Homo sapiens: one gene and its partners. The protein of the gene in region 4 purifies or fractionates together with the protein of the main gene of each other region. This does not show direct contact. Each region holds a gene or a part of one and is shown on either strand. Other genes may lie near its edges.

The links.
Region 1: the proteins of COLQ (region 4) and COLGALT1 purify together in Homo sapiens (co-immunoprecipitation; 2 studies listed by BioGRID and IntAct, with this or other methods). This does not show direct contact.
Region 2: the proteins of COLQ (region 4) and P4HA1 purify together in Homo sapiens (co-immunoprecipitation; 3 studies listed by BioGRID and IntAct, with this or other methods). This does not show direct contact.
Region 3: the proteins of COLQ (region 4) and P3H2 purify together in Homo sapiens (affinity purification with mass spectrometry; 2 studies listed by BioGRID and IntAct, with this or other methods). This does not show direct contact.
Region 5: the proteins of COLQ (region 4) and PLOD3 purify together in Homo sapiens (co-immunoprecipitation; 2 studies listed by BioGRID and IntAct, with this or other methods). This does not show direct contact.
Region 6: the proteins of COLQ (region 4) and TRIM68 purify together in Homo sapiens (co-immunoprecipitation; 3 studies listed by BioGRID and IntAct, with this or other methods). This does not show direct contact.
Region 7: the proteins of COLQ (region 4) and PLOD2 purify together in Homo sapiens (affinity purification with mass spectrometry; 2 studies listed by BioGRID and IntAct, with this or other methods). This does not show direct contact.

Annotation. Positions count from the first base shown.
Region 1 is NC_000019.10:17,565,649-17,569,148, forward strand, and holds part of COLGALT1 (procollagen galactosyltransferase 1 precursor), read left to right. Parts: intron 1-1,757; coding exon 1,758-1,892; intron 1,893-2,860; coding exon 2,861-3,065; intron 3,066-3,500. UniProt on the Homo sapiens protein: Beta-galactosyltransferase that transfers beta-galactose to hydroxylysine residues of type I collagen. By acting on collagen glycosylation, facilitates the formation of collagen triple helix. Also involved in the biosynthesis of collagen type IV.
Region 2 is NC_000010.11:73,090,367-73,093,866, forward strand, and holds part of P4HA1 (prolyl 4-hydroxylase subunit alpha-1 isoform 2 precursor), read right to left. Parts: intron 1-3,500. UniProt on the Homo sapiens protein: Catalyzes the post-translational formation of 4-hydroxyproline in -Xaa-Pro-Gly- sequences in collagens and other proteins.
Region 3 is NC_000003.12:189,956,898-189,960,397, forward strand, and holds part of P3H2 (prolyl 3-hydroxylase 2 isoform a precursor), read right to left. Parts: intron 1,108-3,500; coding exon 1,015-1,107; 3' UTR 1-1,014. UniProt on the Homo sapiens protein: Prolyl 3-hydroxylase that catalyzes the post-translational formation of 3-hydroxyproline on collagens. Contributes to proline 3-hydroxylation of collagen COL4A1 and COL1A1 in tendons, the eye sclera and in the eye lens capsule.
Region 4 is NC_000003.12:15,473,207-15,476,706, reverse strand, and holds part of COLQ (acetylcholinesterase collagenic tail peptide isoform I precursor), read left to right. Parts: intron 1-1,219; coding exon 1,220-1,282; intron 1,283-1,755; coding exon 1,756-1,782; intron 1,783-2,434; coding exon 2,435-2,479; intron 2,480-2,671; coding exon 2,672-2,707; intron 2,708-3,500. UniProt on the Homo sapiens protein: Anchors the catalytic subunits of asymmetric AChE to the synaptic basal lamina.
Region 5 is NC_000007.14:101,211,082-101,214,581, forward strand, and holds part of PLOD3 (multifunctional procollagen lysine hydroxylase and glycosyltransferase LH3 precursor), read right to left. Parts: intron 2,124-3,500; coding exon 2,026-2,123; intron 1,863-2,025; coding exon 1,761-1,862; intron 1,575-1,760; coding exon 1,449-1,574; intron 1,294-1,448; coding exon 1,172-1,293; intron 870-1,171; coding exon 765-869; intron 636-764; coding exon 510-635; intron 1-509. UniProt on the Homo sapiens protein: Multifunctional enzyme that catalyzes a series of essential post-translational modifications on Lys residues in procollagen. Plays a redundant role in catalyzing the formation of hydroxylysine residues in -Xaa-Lys-Gly- sequences in collagens.
Region 6 is NC_000011.10:4,598,232-4,601,731, forward strand, and holds the end of TRIM68 (E3 ubiquitin-protein ligase TRIM68), read right to left. Parts: intron 3,456-3,500; coding exon 3,433-3,455; intron 2,897-3,432; coding exon 2,796-2,896; intron 2,596-2,795; coding exon 2,045-2,595; 3' UTR 441-2,044; downstream 1-440. UniProt on the Homo sapiens protein: Functions as a ubiquitin E3 ligase. Acts as a coactivator of androgen receptor (AR) depending on its ubiquitin ligase activity.
Region 7 is NC_000003.12:146,071,563-146,074,184, reverse strand, and holds part of PLOD2 (procollagen-lysine,2-oxoglutarate 5-dioxygenase 2 isoform 1 precursor), read left to right. Parts: intron 1-832; coding exon 833-898; intron 899-1,519; coding exon 1,520-1,624; intron 1,625-2,622. UniProt on the Homo sapiens protein: Forms hydroxylysine residues in -Xaa-Lys-Gly- sequences in collagens. These hydroxylysines serve as sites of attachment for carbohydrate units and are essential for the stability of the intermolecular collagen cross-links.

The DNA of each region.
Region 1 (3,500 bases), on a different chromosome or scaffold from region 4:
GACTGAGCAAGACTCTGTCTCAAAAACAAACAAACAAACAAAGAAGCTGTTTGAGTCCTTTCTTTCAATTCTCTTGGTTCATACCTAGGAATGGAATTCCTGGATCATGTAGTAATTCTATGTTTAGCTTTTTGAGGAACTGCCACAGTGATCTGGCTGTTTGTTCTGCATTAATATTCAAAGGTCACAGATTCAAACATCCAGAGGGACCGGATGGGGTGTGTAACATGACCACAGGGCTTGTCCTAAGACCCAGCCACCTCCCCTCTGCAACTGAAGGTTGCCATGTGGAAATGGTATTCTCACGTTGCCAGGGGATACTGGAATTCTAGTTTTTGTTGTTGTTCATGGCAGTTAATCCAAATATTCTAAACGATACTGCCTGGGTAACAGAAAGCATCTCTGTGGACCAGCAGTAAAAGAAAAAAAATCCAGACCGGGCACAATGGCTCACACCTGTAATCCCAGCACTTTGGGAGGCCGAGGCAGGCGTATCACTTGAAATCAAGAGTTCGAGACCAGCCTGGCCAACCTGGTGAAACCCCATCTCTACCAAAAAATACAAAAATTAGCCTGACGTGGTGGCATGTGTCTGTAATCCCAGCTACTTGGGAGACTCAGGGAGAATTGCTTGAACATGGGAGGTGGAGGTTGCAGTGAGCCGAGATCACGCCGCTGCACTCCAGCCTATGCAACAGGAGACGCCATCTCAAAAAAACAAAAACAAAAACAAAAAACCTTCTGGTAGTTCTGTGATATATCATGACTTCTGTGTCTTTACATCCTGGTAGAGGGGGAACGTCCGGACCTAATCATTTTCTATGTGTGATTTTATATATATATATTTAATTTTAGTCTAGGTGCAGTGGCTCAGACCTGTAATCTCAGAACTATTGTAGGCCATGGGGAGGATCGCTTTGAGCCCAGGAGTTCAAAACCACCCTAGGCAATGTAGAGGGATCCTATCTCTACAAACATAAAAATAAAAATGAAAACATTATCTAGGCATGGTGACGTGTGCCTGTACGCTCAGCTACTTGAGAGGCTGAGATGAGAGGATCACTTGAGCCCAGAAACTCCAGGCTGCAGTGGGCTACGATTACACCATTGCACTTCAGCCTGAGTGACACAGCAAGATGCTATCCCTTTAAAAAATAAAAAATGAAGAAAAAGTAAAATAGTAGGCCAGGCATGGTGGCTCATGCCTGTAATCCCAGCACTTTGAGAGGCCGAGGTGGACGAATCACATGAGGTCAGGAGTTTAAAACCAGCCTGGCCAACATGATGGTACCCTGTCTCTATTAAAAATACAAAAAGTTACCCGGGTGTGATGGTGCACGGCTGTAGTCGCAGCTACTCGGGAGGCTGAGACAGGAGAATCGCTTGAACCCAGGAGGCGGAGGTTGCAGCGAGCTGAGACCATACCACTGCACTCCAGCCTGGGTGACAGAGCGAGACTCCGTCTCAAAAAAAAAAAGGTTTTGCTACCTTCTTGCTCATTGGTTGTTCATTTATTTCTCAGGGCTATCTCAGTGCCTAGAATTTTCTTTGAAGGAACTGAAGACCTTTGCTTTATTTCCATGATCCAGGGGATCCTGCAGGCCCCCAAAACGGGGTCCCTGCTTCATTTCATCCGGTGTAGGGGGTGCTTCCAGAGGTCTTTGCCAGACCCCCAGGGCACTGGCCTTTGCCCCAGCTGTTCTGAATGGTAGCCTGACCTGGCAGCCCATGCTGATGCTTTGTGGGGTGTTCTGCAGTTTGTAGATGCGGACAACCTGATCCTCAACCCTGACACACTGAGCCTGCTCATCGCTGAGAACAAGACGGTGGTCGCCCCCATGCTGGATTCCCGGGCTGCGTACTCCAACTTCTGGTGTGGAATGACTTCCCAGGTAGAGTGAGGGCCTGGGGACTGTGGGGACTGGGCTGAGCAGGGGGGTGCCGTGGCTAGAGTGTAACTTACTGTCACACAACCTCGTGGTGTGTGTTTTACAAAAATCATCATGGAAGCTGGGCACGGTGGCTCACACCTGTAACCCCAGCACTTTGGGAGACTGCGGCAGGCGGGTTGCCTGAGCTCAGGAGTTTGAGACCATCCTGGGCAACATGGTGAAACCCCATCTCTACTAAAAAAAAAAAAAATTACAGAAATTAGCCGGGTATGGTGGCACATGCCTGTCCTCCCAGCTGCTCGGGAGGCTGAAGCATGAGAATCACTTGAACCCAGGAGGCGGAAGTTGCAGTGAGCCGAGATCACGCCACTGCACTCCAGCCTGGGTGACGGAGTGAGACTTGGTCTCAAAAACAAAACAAAACAAAAACTCATTATGGTAATCTTTAAACAGCCCTCTGAGGCCAGACAGGAGGGAAGAATAGAGGGTCCTTGATTGTCCCCCACCATGCTATTCCAGAGGTGGAAACAGAAACACAGAGAGGAAGTGACTTGCCTAAAGTCACACAGCTAGCAAGTGGTGGTGTCAGGATGGGACTTCAGGCATGGCTTGATCCAGGTGTTTGGATAACTGTCTTTCTCCATCCTTTGGGTGGGTTCATTCTCAGACAGCTTGAGAGTGATCCCAGCAGCGTCTAGCCATCATCCATTCTGATTGGGCCATTGCTAGTCTCCTCTCCACACTACCTCTGAACTCATTACTGAAGCTGGGAAAATACAAGGCTCTTTCTTATTGGCCATGCCTGGCCACAGGTCCCACACTGGGCTTGAGTCTGGGGTCCTGGGACCACAGGCGCACACTGCTGTGCCTGGCTGTCTGTCTGGTCCTGTTTCATGCCGCCCACTATCACGGGTCTCCATCCTCACCTTTCAAGACCCCTACGCGGAACTCTCGCTCTCTCCCCACAGGGCTACTACAAGCGCACACCTGCCTACATCCCTATCCGCAAGCGAGACCGCCGGGGCTGCTTTGCAGTTCCCATGGTGCACTCGACCTTCCTGATCGACCTGCGGAAGGCGGCGTCCAGGAACCTGGCCTTCTACCCACCTCACCCTGACTACACCTGGTCCTTTGACGACATCATCGTCTTTGCCTTCTCCTGCAAGCAGGCAGGTACGTACATGAGGGGTCTGCCATCGCAGGGGCATCTGCCTGGTTCTTTGGGTTTTGCACTAAGCCAGTTCAGAACACACTGAAGATTCACAGAACCCAAACAATGCAGCGCAGGGCTGACTTCAGGTGCAGCTGTATCTAGGTGTTCAGATAATGTCTCCAGGACCCCGTTTCTCTCCAGCCCTGGCTTTGCTGGTTAGCTTCATTCCCTAGCTCTTTAAGATCTATTGGTTGGTCAGGCAGAGTGGCTTATGCCTGTAATCCCAACAATTTGGCAGGCTAAGGCGGGTGGATCATTTGAGGTCAGGAGTTTGAGACCAGCCTGGCCAACATGGTGAAACCCCATCTCTACTAAAAATACAAAAATTAGCCGGACGTGGTGGTGCTACTGGGGAGGCTGAGGCGGGAGGATCACTTGAATATGGGAGGCGGAAG
Region 2 (3,500 bases), on a different chromosome or scaffold from region 4:
CAAGCAGTCCTCCTGCCTCGGCCACCCAAAGGGTTGGGATTACAGGCCTAAGCCACTGTGCCTGACCTTGAGGATACTCTTGAAGGTGATGGATATGTTCCTTATCTTGATTGTACTGATATTTTTTTAAGTAGATATTTTTGTCAAATTTATCAAATTGTACACTGTAAATATATGCAATTTGTCCTGTCAATTTTGCTCAATAAAGTCGTTAAAATATATCAGTTTATTCAATTTATTAGTAATCACCCTTATATCAAAGATTAGTGTTTTACTTATTACTATCACTCTACTTGGTGGCAATGGTCACTATTCACTATTTTCAAATACAATATTAAGGTTTTTTAAATTCAGGCATAGTAAATTGAGGTCTATTTTCAAAATATCTTTGAGGTTAAAGGAAGTAACTGCAGGCCAGGTGCGGTGGCTCATGCCTGTAATCCCAGCACTTTGGGAGGCCGAGGCTGATGGATCACCCCCGGTCAGGAGTTCGAGACCCGCCCGGCCAAGATGGTGACACCCTGTCTCTACTAAAAATACAAAAAAGTAGTCGGGCGTGGTGGCGGGTGCCTGTAATCCCAGCTACTCGGGAGGCTGAGGCAGAGAATTGCTTGAACCCAGGAGGCAGAGGTTGCCGTGAACCGAGATTGCGCCACTGCACTCCAGCCTGGGTGACAGAGTGAGAGTCCATCTCAAAAAAAAAAAAAAAAAAAAAAAAGAAGTAACTAAATTTTGAAATCATGTAAATTTGAGAATGTCTTCATGTAACCTTTGACTATGAATATGTTGCCTGAGTTTACCAAAAAAATAAATAAATAAATAAATAAATAAATAAAAAGGAGGAAGGTTGTCAGAACCATAGGGCAAGAACAAAGGTCACACACACAAGTAACATTTTGAGGTCCTAAATTCAACCAGTAGGTTTTAGAAATACCAACTTTTTTTGTTTTTTTGAGACAGGGTCTGGCTCTGTCACCCAGGCTGGAGTGGAGTGGAACAATCAGAGCTCACAGCAGCCTTGAACTCCTGGGCTCCAGAGATCTTCCCACCTCAGCCTCCCAAAGCACTGGGATTACAGATGTGAGCCACCACGCCTAGACTAAAATAAACATTTCTTGATCATATTTTTGGAGAAATTAGATATGCAAATCTAGTTAATATAAGATTAGAACTGTAAGAGAAGTCTTGAGCCTACTTAAAATCAGTTAATCAATATTTAATTTATTGTTGCAGACACATGTAACAGGATATCTGATGCTTCATACACTGTTCAATGCCTTTTAATTTTATGACTTGTATGATAGTTCTCGGCTATTCATTCTTGGGTTTTACTGAAGTTCCAAAAATCAAAGAGCTTTGATTCTTGTAATGGAAATATCTAGAGAAACTTGTGTTTAACTGACTCGGCAGAGATGAAGGCCAAATTCTCATATGTACCTATAACATTACTCAAATACTATTCTTAGTACAAAAAAGTTAAATATACTCTTATCTCTGAACATGAGCTATTCAGACCAAGGCCACTCAGGTCAGAGTAGAATACTCAAAAGCTGGCTTTAGCAGTCCCTTTCCTCCTAAAAAATGGATTATTGCTCTGAGGCCCAGGTATACTCAGCTTCATCCCTCCCAAGGCTATTCTGTCAAAATTCCACTTTTATTTCCACCCAGTCTACCTCTTTCTAGTCTTCAATTATCTGTTTACTCTAATGCCAGATCCAAATTTCTCAAGTTGAGGTAAAGAGAGACAAAATAAGACCATGTATACTAGAACAGGGAAAAATGAATTCATGGTTGTAGAGGATGTGAATCTAGATATGCATTTCCATTCAGTGCTACAGATTTAATATCTAGTAAAATGTTAGCCACATGGTGCTATATCATGTAATTTTTATGTCCTACTTCTCCTATGAAACATTTCTCATCATTCTTGATTTTCCTACAGTCTACTGGCCATATTGTAAATAATTTTTTTTTCTTTTCTTTTTTTTTTTTTTTTTTTTAGAGACAGGGTCTTGCACTCTCACCCAGGCTAGAGTGCAATGGTGCTATCATAGCTCACTGCAGCTTCCAACTCTTGGGCTCAAGCGACCCTCCCACCTCAGCCTCCCAAGTAGTTAGACTACAGATGCATGCAACCTCATGCCCCCTTAATTAAAAAAAAATTTTTTTTGTAGAGAGATGGGGTCTCACTATGCTGACCAGGCTGGTCTTGAACTCCTGGCCTCAAGTGATCCTCCTGCCTCGGCCTTCCAAAGTGCTGTGATTACAGGTGTGAGCCACCATGCCTGGGCAACATAGTAAGGCCCTGTCTCTAAAAAAAAAAAAATTTAAATATAAATTTAAAAATTAAAAAATTGGTTAAAGTTTACTGTAATTATACAGGTTGATAAAATAAACCACTAAATTACAGTCCTCTCTTTGCACTACTTATAATGGAGAAACAGCTCAAGTGTCCAACAAGAGAGTAAGGATGACCAGGCATGGTGGCTCACACCTATAATCCCAACACTTTGTGGGGCAGATGGGAGAATCACTTGAGGCCAGGAGTTCGAGACTAGCCTGGTCAACAGAGCAAGATCCCATCTCTACAAAAAATTAAAAAATTAGCTAGACATGGTGGCATGCATCTGTACCCCGAGCTACACCCGGAGGCTGAGGCAGAAGGATTGCTTGAGCCCAGGAGTTCAAGGCTGCAGTGAGCTATGGTCACACCACTGCACTCCATCCTGGGCAACAGAGCAAGATCCTATCTCTTAAAAAAAAAAAAAAAAGAGAGAGTAAGGCTGAGTGTACTAATTCCACATAATATTACTATTTAAGAAAGAAATGAGTAATATGGACACATTTTTATGAAACACTAAACATGAGGAAGAGAAAGGCCCAATATAGAACTCATTCACTGATGACAACTAGGTAAGAAGTCTGAATCTCTATAATGTATTTTTAGCAAATGTCAAATCAAATATACTAACAGTCATACTGATCATCCAAAGGAAGACCAGGAAAAAGAATGTTTTTCACCACACCGAGTTTAAAAACTGCTGGAGTAACCTAAATGAGAGTCCTTTTGAATTGCCAAAGCTTTTCTTTAGGTACAATACTTATTCAACTAGAGAAACTGAAGCTGTCCTAATGACAGGACAGCTTCAATTTATACAAATAAATTTTCTTGAATAGAAACACAAAGCTTTGGCCGGGCACGGTGGCGTGATCACACCTGTAATCCCAGCACTTTGGGAGGCCAAGGCGGGCAGATCACGAGGTAAAGAGATCGAGACCATCCTGGTTAACACGGTGTAACCCCGTCTCTACTAAAAATACAAAAAATTAGCTGGGCGTGATGGTGGGCGGCTGTAGTCCCAGCTACTCGGGAGGCTTAGGCAGGAGAATGGCGTGAACCCGGGAGGTGGAGCTTGCAGTGGGCCGAGATTGCACCACTGCACTCCAGCCTGGGTGGCAGAGTGAAACTCCATCTCAAAAAAAAAAAAAAAAAAAAAAAA
Region 3 (3,500 bases), about 170 Mb from region 4:
ACTCCTAGGCAACCTGGCCATGGTGCCCGGATGCAGGCAGTATTCAAGAGTTTCTTCCAAAGTCACCAGGGTGAAAAGCCATTCTACTACAACCTCTACATGACCTTTTAAAGTGTACAACTTATAGGACAGTCCTTTCTGGAGTACTGTGGAGGGTGAATCAAAGCTTCCAGTGTAAGTTTATTGTCTGGCGAAAACACCAGAGCCAAAAATTCCACCAAGGCCCTGGAAAGACTGAAGTCCCCTCTGTCTCATACAGTAATCATCCATGAGATCTCCCGGAGCCTGGGTGATCATTACGCCCATGATACCTGAGGCAGCGTGGACTCTGCCAGGGGCTCCTCAGACCCAAAGTGGAGCTCACTTTGGAGAGTCGGAGCTCATGGCCGTTAGCACCTAAGGATGTGGCTGAAAGGCACAGAGCAAGAAAGGGCTTCAGAGACCAGGCACAGGTTAATTTTAGAACTGGAGCACACGTGAGAGTTGTAGTTTCACCACCAAGAAGCTTATTCTCTCTAAGCTTTTGAATTTGCAGCAACTTAATTGTGTGTGTGTGTGTGTGTGTGTGTGTGTGTGTGTGTGTTTGGGGGAGGAGGTGAACTGGGCTTTGATAGATACATGAAATGATGAAAAACCAAGAAAGAGAGCTGGGTGTGGTGGCACGTGCCTGTGGTCCCAGCTCCCCGGGAGGCTTGAAGGATCGCCTGAGCCTAAGAGTTTGAGGCTCCAGTGTGCTATCATCACATCTGTGAATAGCCACTGCCCTATATCCTAGACAACATGGTTAGACCATGTCTCTAAGAAGAGAGAGAGAGAGAGAGAGAGAGAAAACAACCCAAAACAAGAAAGATAGATTGATAGATTGAGGCAACACAAGCATCCTTAGGAAGAGAAGGAAGATCTGATGACTGACATTAACCTGTTAATTTATACCATGGCTCTGTACAAAAATAAAAAGGTTCTCATAAGATTAACAATTTAAATAAATATTTGATAGAACATTCTTTCTCATTTTTATAGCTCATCTTTAGGGTTGATATTCAGTTCATGCTTCCCTTGCTGTTCTTGATCCAGAATTGCAATCACTTCATCAGCCTGTATTCGCTCCTGCAAAAAAGACAATTTACACATTTCTGTTACAAGCATAATAATCAGTCTCATCAGCAGACGCTTCCCAAACACTTCCTGGCATCCATCTGTACATGGGTTGATGCTATATCCAGTTAAGCATTGAACACCTCCTCTTCATCCCCAGACAGATGCCTTCTCCTAACATTCCTGGGTCCTAAGCAATTACTTTCTAAGATTTTCTCTCCTGCAAAGAACGACTGTATGTTCAACTGCTTCCTACTCTTTCTAATTCATGGCCCCATAGCCATCTCCAACTCAGTTCAGTGGTCAAGCTGAATTCACCATTTTCTCCCCAAGAACCTGCTCTGTTCTTCACGTAGGCTCTCTCTCGGTAAAGACCAACATCGCTCACCTATTTGCCTTAAAAGCCCGACCATGGTTTCCTGCATCTGATAAGTCACCTATTCTGTTCTATCTGCTGTCTCTGCCCCTTTCTCCTCAATGCACTATTGTTGCCGGAGTTTAGGTCAGGGTTTCTCAATTTTGGTCTGATTGACATTTTTAGACCAGATAATTATTTGTTGGGGGGTGGGAGGGTGGTGCTGCCCTGTGCCCTGCAGGATGCTCAGCGACACCCCGTCCTCTCTACCTACCACAGGTGTCAGTAACAACCTCCCCCACCAACCCCCAGATATTGCCAAATGTCCACTAGAGGGCAACATTGCTCCCTCTTTTTTTTTTTTTTTTTTTTTGAGATGGAATTTTGCTCTTGTTGCCCAGGCTGGAGTCCAGTGACGCGATCTCGGCTCACTGCAACCTCTGCCTCCCGGGTTCAAGCGATTCTCCTGCCTCAGCCTCCCAAGTACCTGGGTTTACAGGCGCTCACCACCATGCCCGGCTAATTTTTTATATTTTTACCATGTTGACCAGGCTTGGTCTCAAACTCCCGACCTCAGGTGATCCACCCGCCTCGCCCTCCCAAAGTGCTGGGATTACAGGAGTGAGCCACTGCACCCGGCCAATCGCTCCCTCTTGAGAGCCACCATTGTAAGCCCTCATCATCTCTTAATTACTGCCGCAGCCTCCAAATTGCTCTCGCTGTTTCACTACTCACCCTCACATGCTTCTAATGAATCCTACTGGCTTATATCTGATTATATCTCTTTCCTACTCACAGCTCTTCAATGGGTCCCTACTGCTTGAAGTTTCAGGTCTACTTTTCTTGGTGTGCTTATAAGAAGTTGCTTTACACCTGTCTCTTCTTTTTTTTTTCTTTTATTTATTTATTTATTTTTTATTATTATACTTTAAGTTTTAGGGTACATGTGCACAATGTGCAGGTTAGTTACATATGTATACATGTGCCATGCTGGTGCGCTGCACCCACTAACTCGTCATCTAGCATTAGGTATATCTCCCAATGCTATCCCTCCCCCCTCCCCCCACCCCACAACAGTCCCCAGAGTGTGATATTCCCCTTCCTGTGTCCATGTGTTCTCATTGTTCAATTCCCACCTATGAGTGAGAATATGTGGTGTTTGTTCTCTCTTCTTATTCATACCTTTCTCTCTTCTTTAGGTTTATTTTGCCTCCCTTCTCCTCACCTTATATTCCAACTTCTTAACTTACCTCAAGCTCCCTGAATGTAACACTTTCAAAAGAATTCCCTAATCCGATTCTGAATTAAGTGTTTCTCTGGATGCTCCCATTATATTCTACGCTTTCTTTTATTCCTCACATTAATCCATCAGCAGGTGCAGCTGGTCTACCTCCAAATTGTATCTCAAATCTTCCATCTCTTTTTACCTTCTCTATTACTACTCCAGTCCAAGACCACATGTTAGCTAAAGTAATCTTCTGTATCCTGTAACTCTCCAGGACTGGAGGAGATATGTGTGTGTGTGTGTGTGTGTGTGTGTGTGTGTGTGTGTGTGTGTGTGTGTGTTGGGGTGTGGGGACTACATGACTTTCCACTAGTTAGAATACAATTCGCATTTCCCAATCAGCCTGTGGAATCCGACTCCTGCCGCCTCCACGTCCTCTACTGAAGCCACTCTCCCTCTTGTCTGCCATATTCCAGATGCTCTGGCTTTCTTTGTTTCTTGGTGACTCCAAACATCTTATTGTCTCTGGGCCTTTGCAGCTTGTCCTCTGCCTGGAATACTCTCCTCCAGACATTTATCCTAGTGGACTTCTAATTTATTAGGTTTCAGCTCACATGCCACTTGTTTGGCGAGGCCTCACAATTTGCCGCTCCTACCCTTTCACTCCAGAATCAGTTGTCTTGTTCCATTTTCCACACATCATTGGTCACCGTGTGAAAAATCTCTCGATTATTTATTTATTTTTTACTTTTTTGGGATCTGTTTCCTTCCACTAGAATGTAAGCTCCAGAAGAGCAGGGCATCTTATCTTCTTGGTCACTACTG
Region 4 (3,500 bases):
AGGGATTGTCGAGTGCTGATGAAATCTCCTTCCTCAGTCAGGCTATGGAAAGCAAGCACATCCCCATCTGTGCCTCTGTTTTTCCCACTAGTAGTCATAGACTAGAGGGTTCAGAGGCGTGACTCAGAGTTTTATCTGCAGAAGTCAGAGCTGGGCAGGTGGATCTCACCATCTGCTCTGATTTGTTTACTGGCTATATTATAGCAGTGGAAAACTGTGTGTCCAGTCCTCTTAGGAAAAGTCCCAAAAGGATATTTTAAAAATCCTCTGCATACAGCTGAGCTGTCCTGCACAGCAGCCAGTAGCCACATGTGACCCTCAAGCCCGTGGAATGTTGCTAGTGCTACTGAGGAACTGAATTTTTAAATTTTAACTATTTGAATTAACCTTTACTAAATTCAGTTATTTGAAAATGTTAAAGTATGTTTGGAGCAACTTGAATGCATGAATCTGCTTTTTCAACTATAAATTTTATGATCTCTAAGTACAGATTAAATATTTTGGATGAAAATTTAGCACCTGAATGGAGATGTGTAAATGTAAATTACATAGCAGATTTCAAGTACTTATTATGAAAAGCACAATGTAAAATATCTCAATAATTTTTGTATAGATTACAAGTTGGGATGATTAATTAGATTAAAGGAGATCTATTAAAATTAACTTCATTCGTTTAGTTTTACTTTAAGGTGACTTCTTTTAAAAGTTTAAAATTAAGTATGTGGCTCACCTTATATTTCTATTGGTTAGTGCTGGTATAGAGTATTTTTAGTACAGAGGGTGGGTGCTGGAAGTCCCAACCACAAATCATTCTGAGGACCCTTCCTATGCAAAGAGCAAAGCAGGCAATGTTTTTTGCGTGTATTGACACCTTGTTTTCTGGGGCCCCAGTTCCGTCATGCCCCCTCCACTACTCTCTCACTATCCTCGCTAGGAAAATACCAAGTATTACCATATACAACATCTTAGTGAGCAGTTGGTGTGGGGATCTGCTTCACTTTGGGCGTTTTCATTTTATATTTAATCTTAAACACAAGAATGAAATGTGGAGTACGGAGTTTTGGGACCTCAGGAGGGAGAAAGTGGGTGCATCTGGGGTCCTCAGATTTACAAGCCAGCCCTGATATCCCCAGTTCCTTCCCAATCTTGCCTGTGACTTCCTGGTTCAGTTTCTCTAAAAAATATCACCGTGGGTCTTTTCTTCTTCTAATTCCCACAGGGTGAAAAAGGTGACCTGGGTATGATGGGCTTGCCAGGGTCAAGAGGACCAATGGGCTCCAAGGTCAGTGTGGGGTCCAAATGGACGTTCCCAGATCTCTGTCAGGCTCTGGAGCAGCTGCTGTCTACAAACATAGGGACTGGGTGGGGCTGCAGTCCCGGACTAGGGAATGTCGCGGATATTGGAGAGCCTGCCTTTACCAGCCCTTTGGAGAACATCATGCCCTGGGATGCAGGGGCATAGGGATGCCATTCCTGCTGTTCTCTTGGGCAGGAAGAACCAAGCTTCTGGACATCAGAGCAGATGGAAACCTTTGATCAGGACTTTGCAGAGTGATAAAAGCAATGTTCCTTTTAGGCCTGGTATAACCACAACCCTCTGGGACATCTTTGTGTTTGGTGCTGCAACCCCACTAAAACTCACAGTGCAATGTGGAGACATACCTTACCACCACATTCAGGGATTCCTTCTATTCTTCCACCAAACTCAGAAGTCCTACAGGGCTGATTGTAAATGTACCTTCTGCTTTCTTTTAGGGCTACCCTGGATCCAGAGGGGAAAAGGTTAGTGCTTTTCTTGGATGGTGTCCTAGAGCCTGGTCTGGGCTACTGGCTCTGGAATCAGAGACATGCAGAGAATGGGTCCAGGTCTCTCTTTAGTCTGCAACTGAAGCCACCATCCCTAGCTATTCCCCACCCTTTGTCAGTGGACTGAGAGAGAAGTGAGGGACCTCCTGAAGCAGGGCAAGCTGGTAAGAGAAGGGCTCCCCATAGAGGCAGAGGCCCCTCGTGTGGAGCACATAAGCAAATGAAGGCCGTGCCAGGTAGAGAATAAGCACAGTTTGCACAGAGTGCTGGAGGAAATTGGTGATGCATGTCTTTAGGCCAAGCTTTCACCACCACACAACCTTCTGACCTGGCCAAAAACCAAATCAAAACAGCATCAACCTGTGGACAAATTTCCTACAGGATGAGAGAGGATTTGGGGCCCAGAATTTTCCGTGAGTTGTCCTTTATGAATGCAAGAGGTCTTTGGGGTTCAACAAGAAGTAGATCACAAAGCATTCCTTCCCTGGAGAAGTCACCTGACATATCTGAGCCTATTTCTTCACTTGTAAAATGAGGGTTTTGGTTTAGGGAGCTTTTCAGTTTGAAATGCTTGAATTTCCCTCCCAGGATATTAACTCATTGACTTTCTCCTATGGTTTCTTCCTAGGGATCCAGAGGTGAAAAGGGTGACCTGGGTCCCAAAGGAGAAAAGGTAATGGAGAAAACCTTTCCATAGAAATGATAAATGTCAGTGCAAGTAGCAGCCCCCACCCACCCCCATCCGTGGACTGATGATGGACTGATGGACAGGCCTCCATCTTGAAAATGACCAACAAAGCCTGTCCACAGCCATTTCAGGTGTTATTTCAGAGGTGATCACAATTATTTGTTGCTCTTTTCACAGGGTTTCCCAGGATTTCCTGGAATGTTGGGGCAGAAAGTAAGTAACCTTGAGGTAGTGAAAATAGGCCTCAATAAAAATATCAGGTCCTCCAAGCACAACAAAAAGAACTCTGCCTCCTTGTCTATCAGGCAGGGATGGTGGGTTTAACCATGGAAACTTCTATTTTGGGACGGGAAGCAAGTTGCTTTTCACCCTGGGGAGAGGGTGGCAGGATGGTCTGGAGCCTCCCTCTAGCTCAATGGGAAGGAAAGGACAACCCATCTGGGTTTTGGGTTTTTGTTTGTTTGTTTGTTTTTTTGCTTTTTTGCTTTTCCTACCTCTTAGAGGGCTGTGGTCCTATTCAAATGCAGAAACCTTTCTCACAGGGGACTCAGATCTGAGCCACAACGGTCAAAGCCCCTGTCAGCACACAGGCCTCAGTGTAAGGCACAGGTGTCTTTAGCTTAAGGTCACTGTGCCTTATTGCAGTCCTTCTTCAAGGGCGGTGCACATACTGCCAGAAGGACACAAAAGTATTTGAACTGAAGACTGCTAACATTGTTTAAGAGTTAAATTTTGTATTTAAATAGTTAAATATTGGCCAGGCATGGTGCCTCATGCCTGTAATCCCAGCACTTTGGGAGGCCGAGGTGGGCAGATGGCTTGAACCCAGGAGTTCGAGACTAGCCTGGGCAACATGGTGAAATCCCATTTCTACCAAGAAAAATATACAAAACATTAGCTGGGCATGGTAGTTCGCACCTGTAGTGCCAGATACTTAGGAAGGTGAGGCGGGAGGGTGGCCTGAGCCCAGGAGTCAAAGCTGCGGTAAGCCATGATTGCACCACTG
Region 5 (3,500 bases), on a different chromosome or scaffold from region 4:
TGTTGGCCAGGCTGGTCTCGAACTCCTGACCTCGAGTAATCCACCTGCCTCTGCCTTCCAAAGTGCTGGGATTACAGGCGTCAGCCACCGCGGCCGGCCCTTGTTTTTTATTTTCTTGAGAAAGGGTCTCCCTCTGTTTCCAGGCTGGAGTGCAGTGGTGGAAACATGGCTCACTGCAGCCTCAACCTCCCAAGTTCAAGTGATTCTCCCACCTCAGCCTCCGTAGTAGCTGGGACCACAGGCACGCACCACCGTGCCCAGCTAATATTTTAAGTTTTTTGTAGAGATAGGCTCTTGCTACGTTGCTCAGGCTGATCTTAAACTCCCAGGCTCAAGCAGTCCTCCTACCTCAGCCTCCCAAAGTGGTGGCATCAAAAGTGTGAGCCACTGCAGCCAGCCTCATGGCACCTCTGACTGGTGACCACTCCAAACCCCTGAGAGTAGGGGGCTTGGGTCTACCTGGGCCCCGGGTCGGAGGAGGCGGGGGGCTGCAGGCTGGCGGGACTCACACTCGCTTCCGCTGCACCAGCTCCACGTAGTCCTCGGAGCGGGCGTAGTACTCATCGGGGCTCAGGGCGCCCCAGAAGTTGGACCACAGCTTGCCGTGGCGGGACAGCATGGGGGCGATCACCTTCCTGCGGACAGGTGGGGGTGAGGGCTGGGCAGACGGGAGCAGGCCTGGGGAGCCCGGTGCCCAGGGCAGGAGTGGGGTTCCCGGGGCCTGTTGGGGTGCCCTCCGGCTGCGGGGAGAGGGGGTAAGCCACCTGTTCTCCTCAATGAGGATACGCAGGGTCTGCAGGTTGGTGAGGACAGCGTCGGCGTCCAGGCTGAAGTAGAACTCACACTCGGGGTCCTGCCGACACAGGTCCCTGGAGGTGAGAGGCGAGCTGAGACGGCGGCAGGTGGGGAGGCGGTGTGGATGGGGTAACTGGCCCATGCCCCCAGGAGAAGAGGAGGGAGGCAGTGTCTATCCTTCCTTCCCCAGGCTCTCTGCTGTCTGGGTGAGCTGGCAAGGGCAGGAGTGACAGCATGGGGGCTGCAAGGATGCGAATGGGGAGGCCCAGGAGGGGCTGGATGGGTGACAGGTGAGGCAAGGGCCAGGCAGCAGGTGGCAGCACCCCTGACCCTACAGCCTCATCCCACCCTCTCCTCCCCGCAAGCACCCGCTCACATGGCCATGTCCCTGGCCTCGCCTGGGCTCAGAGCCTCCTCCGGCCCCACGAGCTTCACAGCTGAGAAGTGGTCCTGGAGCTGCGGCCAGGAGTCAGCGATGTGGGGTTCATGGAAGACCTCCTGGGAGGGGAAGACATAGGGGGATGGGCTCAGAGGGCAGGGAGGCGGCACCTGAGGGATGGGGGTGCAGGAAGGAGATGGGGGTGGGGGCACGAGAGTTCTGATCAGGGCAGGGAAAGGGTCCCTCAGGAGAGGCTCCAACAGGGGAGTCTCACGTTGTTGTGCAGGAAAAGGGTGACCCTGTCGGGGGGATAGTCCAGGAGTAGCAGCCGCTGCAGGAAGCGGGGCAGAAACGGAGTAGGCTGTTCCACAAACACGGCCAGAAACACCCGGGGGGGAGGCTGGAAGATGCAACACGCAGGGACTCAGAGAGAAGCCCGGACTTCCCTGCTGCCCCCACCCAACCTCCACCCTGACAGGTGCAGGGACCCAGGAGCGATGCCCCCACCGCCCCCCAGTCCGCTGTCCTTGTACCTCCTGCTCAGCACGCTGCCCTCTCGTGCCCCTCCCTGGCACCCCCACCTCACCTGCCCCCCCGGGAGTGTCCTCCGGTCCTGGTTGCAGAAGCCACAGCCTCCCTCAGGAGTCCAGCCATTGGGGACGTAGTTTCCCAGGTAGTTGAGCTGCAGCTGTTGGGGACAGACTGAGGCTGAGTGGCTGAGGCCTCCAGGGGTGGAGGTGGGGGTCAGGCACCTCTGATATGGGGGCTGGGAAGGGCCAGCTTCTCAGAAGGGTTGGAGGTGCCTGGGGGTTGGGGCAGGGCGGGGCGGGGGTTGAGACCACTGGTGGCACCTTAGTGGGACCGTTTCCATGGACCACAATGGGGAGCGTGTCGTAGGCCACGTTCCGGATACGCACACGGTTCCGATCAAACTTTAAAACCACTTCATCTGGGGAAGAAAAAGGCCAGGCTTCAGACCCCCTTTCTCTGGGAGCTACCAAGCAACACATTCTTCTAAATATGGGGTCCCAAATTCTCCAGGGAATAAAGGGACACCAGGGCTATCCTGGAGTGTGGCTCGTTGTGGGCAGGAACCTTTGGGTTCTGACCAGGCTGCTGGCCCAGAGAGCTCCACTGCCTACTACCTGCGTGATCACACCGCAGCTGGGCGAGGAAGGGGAGGGTGAGCTGAGCGGGAGGCCAGTAGGAGCCTCAGCATCCCTACCCCTCCTCATATTCTCTCTCTCCTTGTTTTTTTTTTTTTTTATTTTTATTTTTTGAGATGGAGTCTCACTCTGTCACCCAGGCTGGAGTGCAATGGCGTGGTCTCGGCTCACTGCAACCTCTGCCTCCTGAGTTCAAAAGATTCTCTTGCCTCAGCCTTTCAGGTAGCTGAGACTATGGGCACATGCCACTACACCTGGCTAATTTTTGTATTTGTATTTTTTGTTTTTTATGCTGAGATGGAGTCTCACTCCCAACACGCAGGCTGGAGTGCAGTGGCACGATCTTGGCTCATTGCAACTTCCACCTCCAGGGTTCAAGCGATTCTCCTTCCTCAGCCTCCCGGGTAGCCAGGATTACAGGCGCGCACCACCATGCCCGGCTAATTTTTGTGTTTTTAGTAGAGACAGGGTTTCACCATGTCGACCAGGCTGGCCTTGAACTCCTGACCTCAGGTGATCCACCTGCCTCGGCCTCCCAAAGTGCTAGGATTACAAGCATGAGCCACCACACCCAGCCTAATTTTTGTATATTTAGTAGAGACTGGGTTTCACTATGTCAGCCAGGCTGGTCTCAAACTTCTGACTTCATGATCTGCCCGCCTCAGCCTTCCAAAGTGCTGGGATTACAGATGTGAGCTGTCGCACCTGGCCTTTTTTTTTTTTGAGAAGGAATCTCACTCTGTCACCCAGGCAGGAGTGCAGTGGCGCAATCTCGGCTCACTGCAAGCTCTGCCTCCCGGGTTCCAGTGATTCTCCTGCCTCAGCCTTCTGAATAGCTGGGATTACAGGCACCCGCCACCACGCCCAGCTCATTTTTGTACTTTTTTTTAGTAGAGACGGGTTTTCGCCATGTTGGCCAGGCTGGTCTCAAACTCCTGACCTCAAGTGATCCTCCTGCCTGGGCCTCCCAAAATGTTGGGATTACAGGCGTGAGGCACCGTGCCTGGCCTCTCTCTCTCCCCGTTCTCCCCATCCCCTGAGGCAAGTCACCAACCCCTCCACAAGCTGTTTTCCTCATCTGTACAAGAAGGATAACCAGGGACCTTCCCTTTGTTAAATGGAATCACAGAAGTAGACCGGGCACAGTGGCTCATGCCTGT
Region 6 (3,500 bases), on a different chromosome or scaffold from region 4:
AACCTTACGAGTCTTCTAACAAGTAATCAGAGTACCCAAACAGGCTTATAAATGTAAAAAACAATCAAACCAACCAAAAAGAGTACATTACAAATGAGGCCATTTCATTCCTTCCTTCATTCTAAGTTCGAATGAATTTATCAGCTAACAATCCTCCGTTTCTAGGAACCTTCCAAGATTTGTCTTAATAGCCAAAGAACAACATTGATTTTCCCTTAACCCTTTTGTCCCAATTGTCCACAGACAGAACTGAAGTCCTTCCTAGGGACCTACTTCTCAGTTACCCCCAGGGAATCCCCTGACAAAGATGCTCCTCTAATTGAGGCAGGCTCAACCCTTGGCCAGCACCAGGGTCTGTGCCTCACTAGCTCATTCCCCTCCAGGCAGCTGATGGAAACTTCTCCCCTTCTACTACTGATTCTCAAGAAGCAGTCTGGAAGCATGGTGGACAGAATGCGTTTATTTCTCCAGTTTGGCCTATTTTAACTCCTACATACATGAACAGCCAATACAATTAAAGTAGAAACACAATTTTTAATATTCCTTATCACAGCCATTTGAAGCTCCTTTCTGCCCAAAAGGTCTAGACTGCCAGCAGAGGCCCTGAGACAAAGGCACTGCTATAAGATGCAGACTGTATCATGGCACAGTGGGAAAGTCACCATGTGCAAAATCCACGGCTTGCCTGCCTCTATGCCTCAGACAGGAACAAATCATGGGATGGATCTGGGATCTATACAACAGCTCCATGAGGCAGGACAATCATATGAGGTTTTATGCTGAATTACACCCATTTTCCCAATGAGGACACATAAAACCTCCCAAACATGTGAGAAGTTTCAGACCCAAATATAATAAGTGATGTATAGGCATGTGACCTGCGAAGTGAGTTTGTCAACCTTGTTTCACTTGAGTGTGAAAAATGCTTTATAATTTTGATAATCTTACCTTCAGCAGCTTTGTAAGAAATAACTTGCTCCAGGGGCCGGGCGCAGTGGCTCATGCCTCTAATCCCAGCACTGTGGGAGGCTGAGGAGGGCGGATCATGAGGTCAGGAGATCGAGACCATCCTAGCTAACATGGTGAAACTCCGTCTCTACTAAAAATACAAAAAAATGAGCCAGGCGTCGTGGTGGGCGCCTGTAGTCCCAGCTACTCGGGAAGCTGAGGCAGGAGAATGGCGTGAACCCAGGAGGCAGAGCCTGCAGTGAGCCGAGATCGTGCCACTGCACTCCAGCCTGGGCAACAGAGTGAGACTCCGTGTCAAAAAAAAAGAAATAACTTGCTCCCTTAAGGCCATTTCAGTTTCCTCATTCATAAAGTGAAAATACAAACTAAAGCTCGCAGGTTTTCTGATCCTGCCACTTAGAGAAAAAAGGCAAGACTAGGACACTGGTCTCCTGGAGTCCAAGGGACAGTGATTTGCCCAGCTTGTGCTCAGAGAGGGAACGGCAGTGGGGTGGCTTGGGCAGGTCTGTGTCCCCCTGCTGCACTGAATTTCTCTTGCCAGGAGGTCAGAAGGTGAGAGTCACATAAAGGTTGCTTAGTTATAGCAAACCTCAGGGGAAGCATCCTCTGACTGGCCTCAGCACAACAACCAGCTCTGGGTATGCGCAGCATTTTTTTGGCCTATTGGGAAAGCCCATCTAATGGTGTCCTGAAGACTGTATCTACTTCATCATCCTCACTGACTGAACTGTGACACCGGACGGGAATCAGGGAAGAGGGTGGTTGGCTACTACATGGACAAAGTCCTGATCCTTACCCCAACGAGTCACCTTAGAACTGCTCTGATCCTCACCATCAGCCCTGTCGTGCTTCCCTCATGGGATGCAATGCTCATTTGACTGGGCCTCTGCTTTTTAAAATAAGTGGTTTCATGACAGACTTCAGCCTGGTAGCAAAGACCAAAGGATCAGACAGAGGAATCCTTGGATACTGGGCTCAGCTCAGTTTCAGGGGATACCTGTCAGTGGCTCGGTCCTCCAAGCCCCATGGGGGCCAGGCCCAATTCCAAGCCTCTCTGGTTAGGGTGGTAGCTTTCTTAGTCCTCCCCATCCAGGGAGCAGATGGCCAGAGGAGCAGTGTTGTTGGTTCCAATGCTGTAGCAAGGACTAAAATAGGGCAGGAGGCGCCCAGGGAAGGGATAGCGGGGGAAAGTGAAGATGTGGGAGCCACAGTCAGTCACATTGTAGAAAGAAATGTCATGGGCCTCATAATCCACGAAGATTCCCACCCGGCGAGGAGGGACCGGCAAGGACAGGATTGGGTACTCATCGGTGCCTGCTCGGTACTCATTTCCCTTCCTCAGCCTTATCACCCAGAATCCATAGTGGGGGGATAAGTAGACCACCTCCTTCCGGTCTACATTTTGCTTACATACTCCCAGGCCCCACTCAGACCTGTCTCCCACCTCCACCTCCCAGTAGTGCCGGCCTGAGGAGATGCACTGGCTTCCCAGGACGATATTATAGCGGTAAAATCTCTCAGGATTGTCTGGCAGTTTCTGGTTGGTGTCTCCATAGTGCACACGTTTTCTGTCCTCAGACACGATGAGACGGGAGTAAGCAGTATCTGGATCCAAGCGCACATCAGCTAGAAGAAAAGGTCCTGGTTGGTAACAGTGATATAGGGCCAGGGGACATGGGTGAGAGCCCTCTGATAAATTCAGCCACAGATTTCTCAATGATGAAGGGGTGAGGCTGGATGGAGCACCCAGAGGGCACTGAACCATTTTCTATCTCTGGGAGGGGTCCCTCCCACTGTCCACTACAGTCTCCCCCAGGATCCATTACCTGCATAAGTCTTCAGGATCTCTCTTAGCCCCAGCACACGGCAATCTGTCTTCAACTCCAGGGAGATTGGTTCTGGCTGCTGCAAGCTCCAAGATTTGCTCCTGGTAGAGGAGGGTGAACCTCAGGGCCAGGAGTCCCGGCTTTGTCACATGGGCCTTATCTTAGTACAGGGAAGAGGGGCTTGGCCAGGGACATAGTGAACCCCAGCAAAGCAGAGACATGATGGTTACGGTTATTTGGCTGAGCCTCAAGCTGTTTGTGTGCAGAGGTGAGAACACCTGCATGCCCATGCTATGGGAAGGGTTGGATGTATATTTGATTCTGGGAGAGGAAGAAGTGCACACATTTTCTGTCGGACATGAAGGAGTCATGGGCAGTCTTTTATCCTCTTTGAGCAATCTACTTGAAACCACATATTTTACAGCTTCACTTGATATACATTTGATCAAGTACAAAGAAGAAAAAGGAAAGATCAACAAAGATTCCTTAGCCATTACCATGTAAGTGGGACGAGACTGTGGACCAGCACCTGCTTTTCTGTGTGCACCGAGTCTGTGCTCCGTCCCTACTTCTGGCTCTAGTTAGGCCTCACTATCCCCTACAGGGCTGCTTAGAGGCTCCAAGGGTGAGAACATACCTGTTTAACACTTCCTGAATATCCTGGAAGGAGAAAAAAAAATGCAGCATCTGAGTAAGTGCTATTCC
Region 7 (2,622 bases), about 130 Mb from region 4:
ATAAAGAACTTGTCCCAATAAAATAATTCTTTAGCTTTTGTTGAAAAAAGTTGAGATATCTTTGTGTGTGGATTTTATGCCAGAGATTGGTCAAAAAGAATCAAATTCATGGATTAGAATAAAGAGAAACCATTTTTTAATATAGAGCCCTAACCCTTAATTTTAGTAACTGAAAGAAGTGCAAGTGCTAGTAAACTCATGATTATTCCTTGATAAATATTAATAACTGAAGTGAAGGCAGAAATTTTAAAAACTCATTTAAAAAATCAAATTTAGAGTAATTTACTATAGACATATAAGACAGACCCTAGTTAATTAGTTCACTAATTCATTTTTACAAATACTTGTTGGTAGAATTTTGCTCCTTGTCTTTTACCTTTAAGCACACCTTTATTTACCTACTCTGTGTATATATTAAAATACTGATGGTCCCCAACTTACGGTGGCTTTACTTAGGAATTTTCAGCTTTATGTTGGATTTATCGGGGTACTGTGTGTTTTTAACCTCCCACGGGTTTATTGGGACATAACCCCATCGTGAGTCAAGGAGCATCTGTAAAATGTGTAAATCTATTCACTGTAAGATTACTTAAGTTTTAAAATCCTGAGGTACAATATTTCATAAATAAAAATTTTGTATTTCATAGAATGACATAAGCATATTCAGAACCAGGCAAAGATTAGGCTATATACTGTGATTTCTGAAAATTACTATTTTGTCCACTATACATAATCATTTATAAGTTGAATAATTTCTAAAATGCATATGCTTTATACTTTTCAGTGAAGTATTTATAAAGATATTTGTTTTAATATGTACTTCTTTTTATAGGACTGGAAGGAAAAGTATATAAACCGTGATTATTCAAAGATTTTCACTGAAAATATAGTTGAACAGGTTTGTATTAATGATTACAAAGTATAGAAAATTTTGCTGTTATTTTCCAGAAGAAATATTATTAATACTACTTTCACAGAAGATGTGAAAGTGGAGAAACTACCTTTTAGGTAAAATTTATTTGATTCAATTACTGATTAAATAGCATTAAGGAACATACAGTTGTAAAATGTAGAACATAGAAATTAACATTTTAAAAGCATGCCTTTTTAAAAAGCATGCTCCTATGTGTCATAGCTTTCTGAAACCACTAAAAATAGAAACTGTTGACAGATCTCTGATGTAGAACTCTTGCAGTGAAAGCTTATCTTTGGAAGAAACTGGGCTGTCTTTCTGGAAGAGTCTTTTCTCAGAGACATCTTTGAAACATGAATTCTCTTTTAGCTTAGTGTTCAAAACTATTGTTAATACCTAATTTTTGAGAATGTAAGATGTCATCAATTCTGAGGTGCACCATTATTTATGTACCATGAGAAAAAAAATACTGTCAATAAACCATGACAGAAAACTATGTTTCCTAGTCATACAGGATTTTTTATTTTACACATATTAAAATAACTATTTTAGACTATTAAGACACAGAAGTTATTATGTCTTCTAACGATGATGCATATTTTATAGCCCTGTCCAGATGTCTTTTGGTTCCCCATATTTTCTGAAAAAGCCTGTGATGAATTGGTAGAAGAAATGGAACATTACGGCAAATGGTCTGGGGGAAAACATCATGTAAGTTGTAATTTCACACTAAGAACTAAAATGTATGTGGGGGTTAAGTAGATACTCAGAGAATTCGGAGGGGTTATATACTTTTTCTCATATGTCTCTGAGTTCTAGACTTAGATAAATTGGCTAGCCAAGGCTCTGATTTCAGTCTACTTCTCCCACCAACCAATTTTTTTAACACTTAAGTAATTTCATTAGTTTGGGCGGGTTTCTCATTTATGCATGTAATTACACTGGATGTTCCCTAAGGGTCGATGTCCTCAGGCCAGAGTTTGTTAGGTAACACATGTCTTTACAGAGTGATGTCACTCTTTTCCAAGGCCACTTTTTATTCCTTGCGTTTTCACAGTGAGCTGTGGTGAAAATTCTAAGGCAAATGTTATCTGGCTCTGAAAACTGTTTTTGTGTGTAAAGATAGGAAGGAGGGATCTGAGTGCCTTAGGTGTAATTCAGTTTTGCATTTGCATTCAGTGTCAAAGACTTGGCAGGAAATACTACTGCCAGTGGTTAGATGTGTTTCTTTCCCTCTGAGAACAGACATGCCATTTTAGCAGAATACTCTGGAATATTACTGCCTCTGCACGGTTATGTCCCCCAGGTAATGAGCTGATAAGGGAGAGGGAAGCTTAAAGTATAAGGAAGAACTTAAGTTAGTGGGTGATGAAATAATGAAAAGCAATCATTCAAAAACTTTTGAGTGTTACAAATAGAAGTGAGGAAGGGCGGGGAAAGCTTGTTTTTAGTGTTTGGTAATACAGACAGCAGATATGCTAAGTGTATGCTCATCAAGCAGCTGAGACTGCCTAAAGGGTCACTGTAAAAAAAGACTCATTTTTAAGAAAGGATGTGAGGGCTTAGGAAGTCAATTTTATTTACTTTATAGCTAAACTTCACATATACATTTAAGAAGTAGGAAAGGAGTCTACTGACCTTACATTACTTTGTTTCGTCATTGTATCATTGACAAAGCTGTTACCTAAGTTATTTTGATAATTTTACAG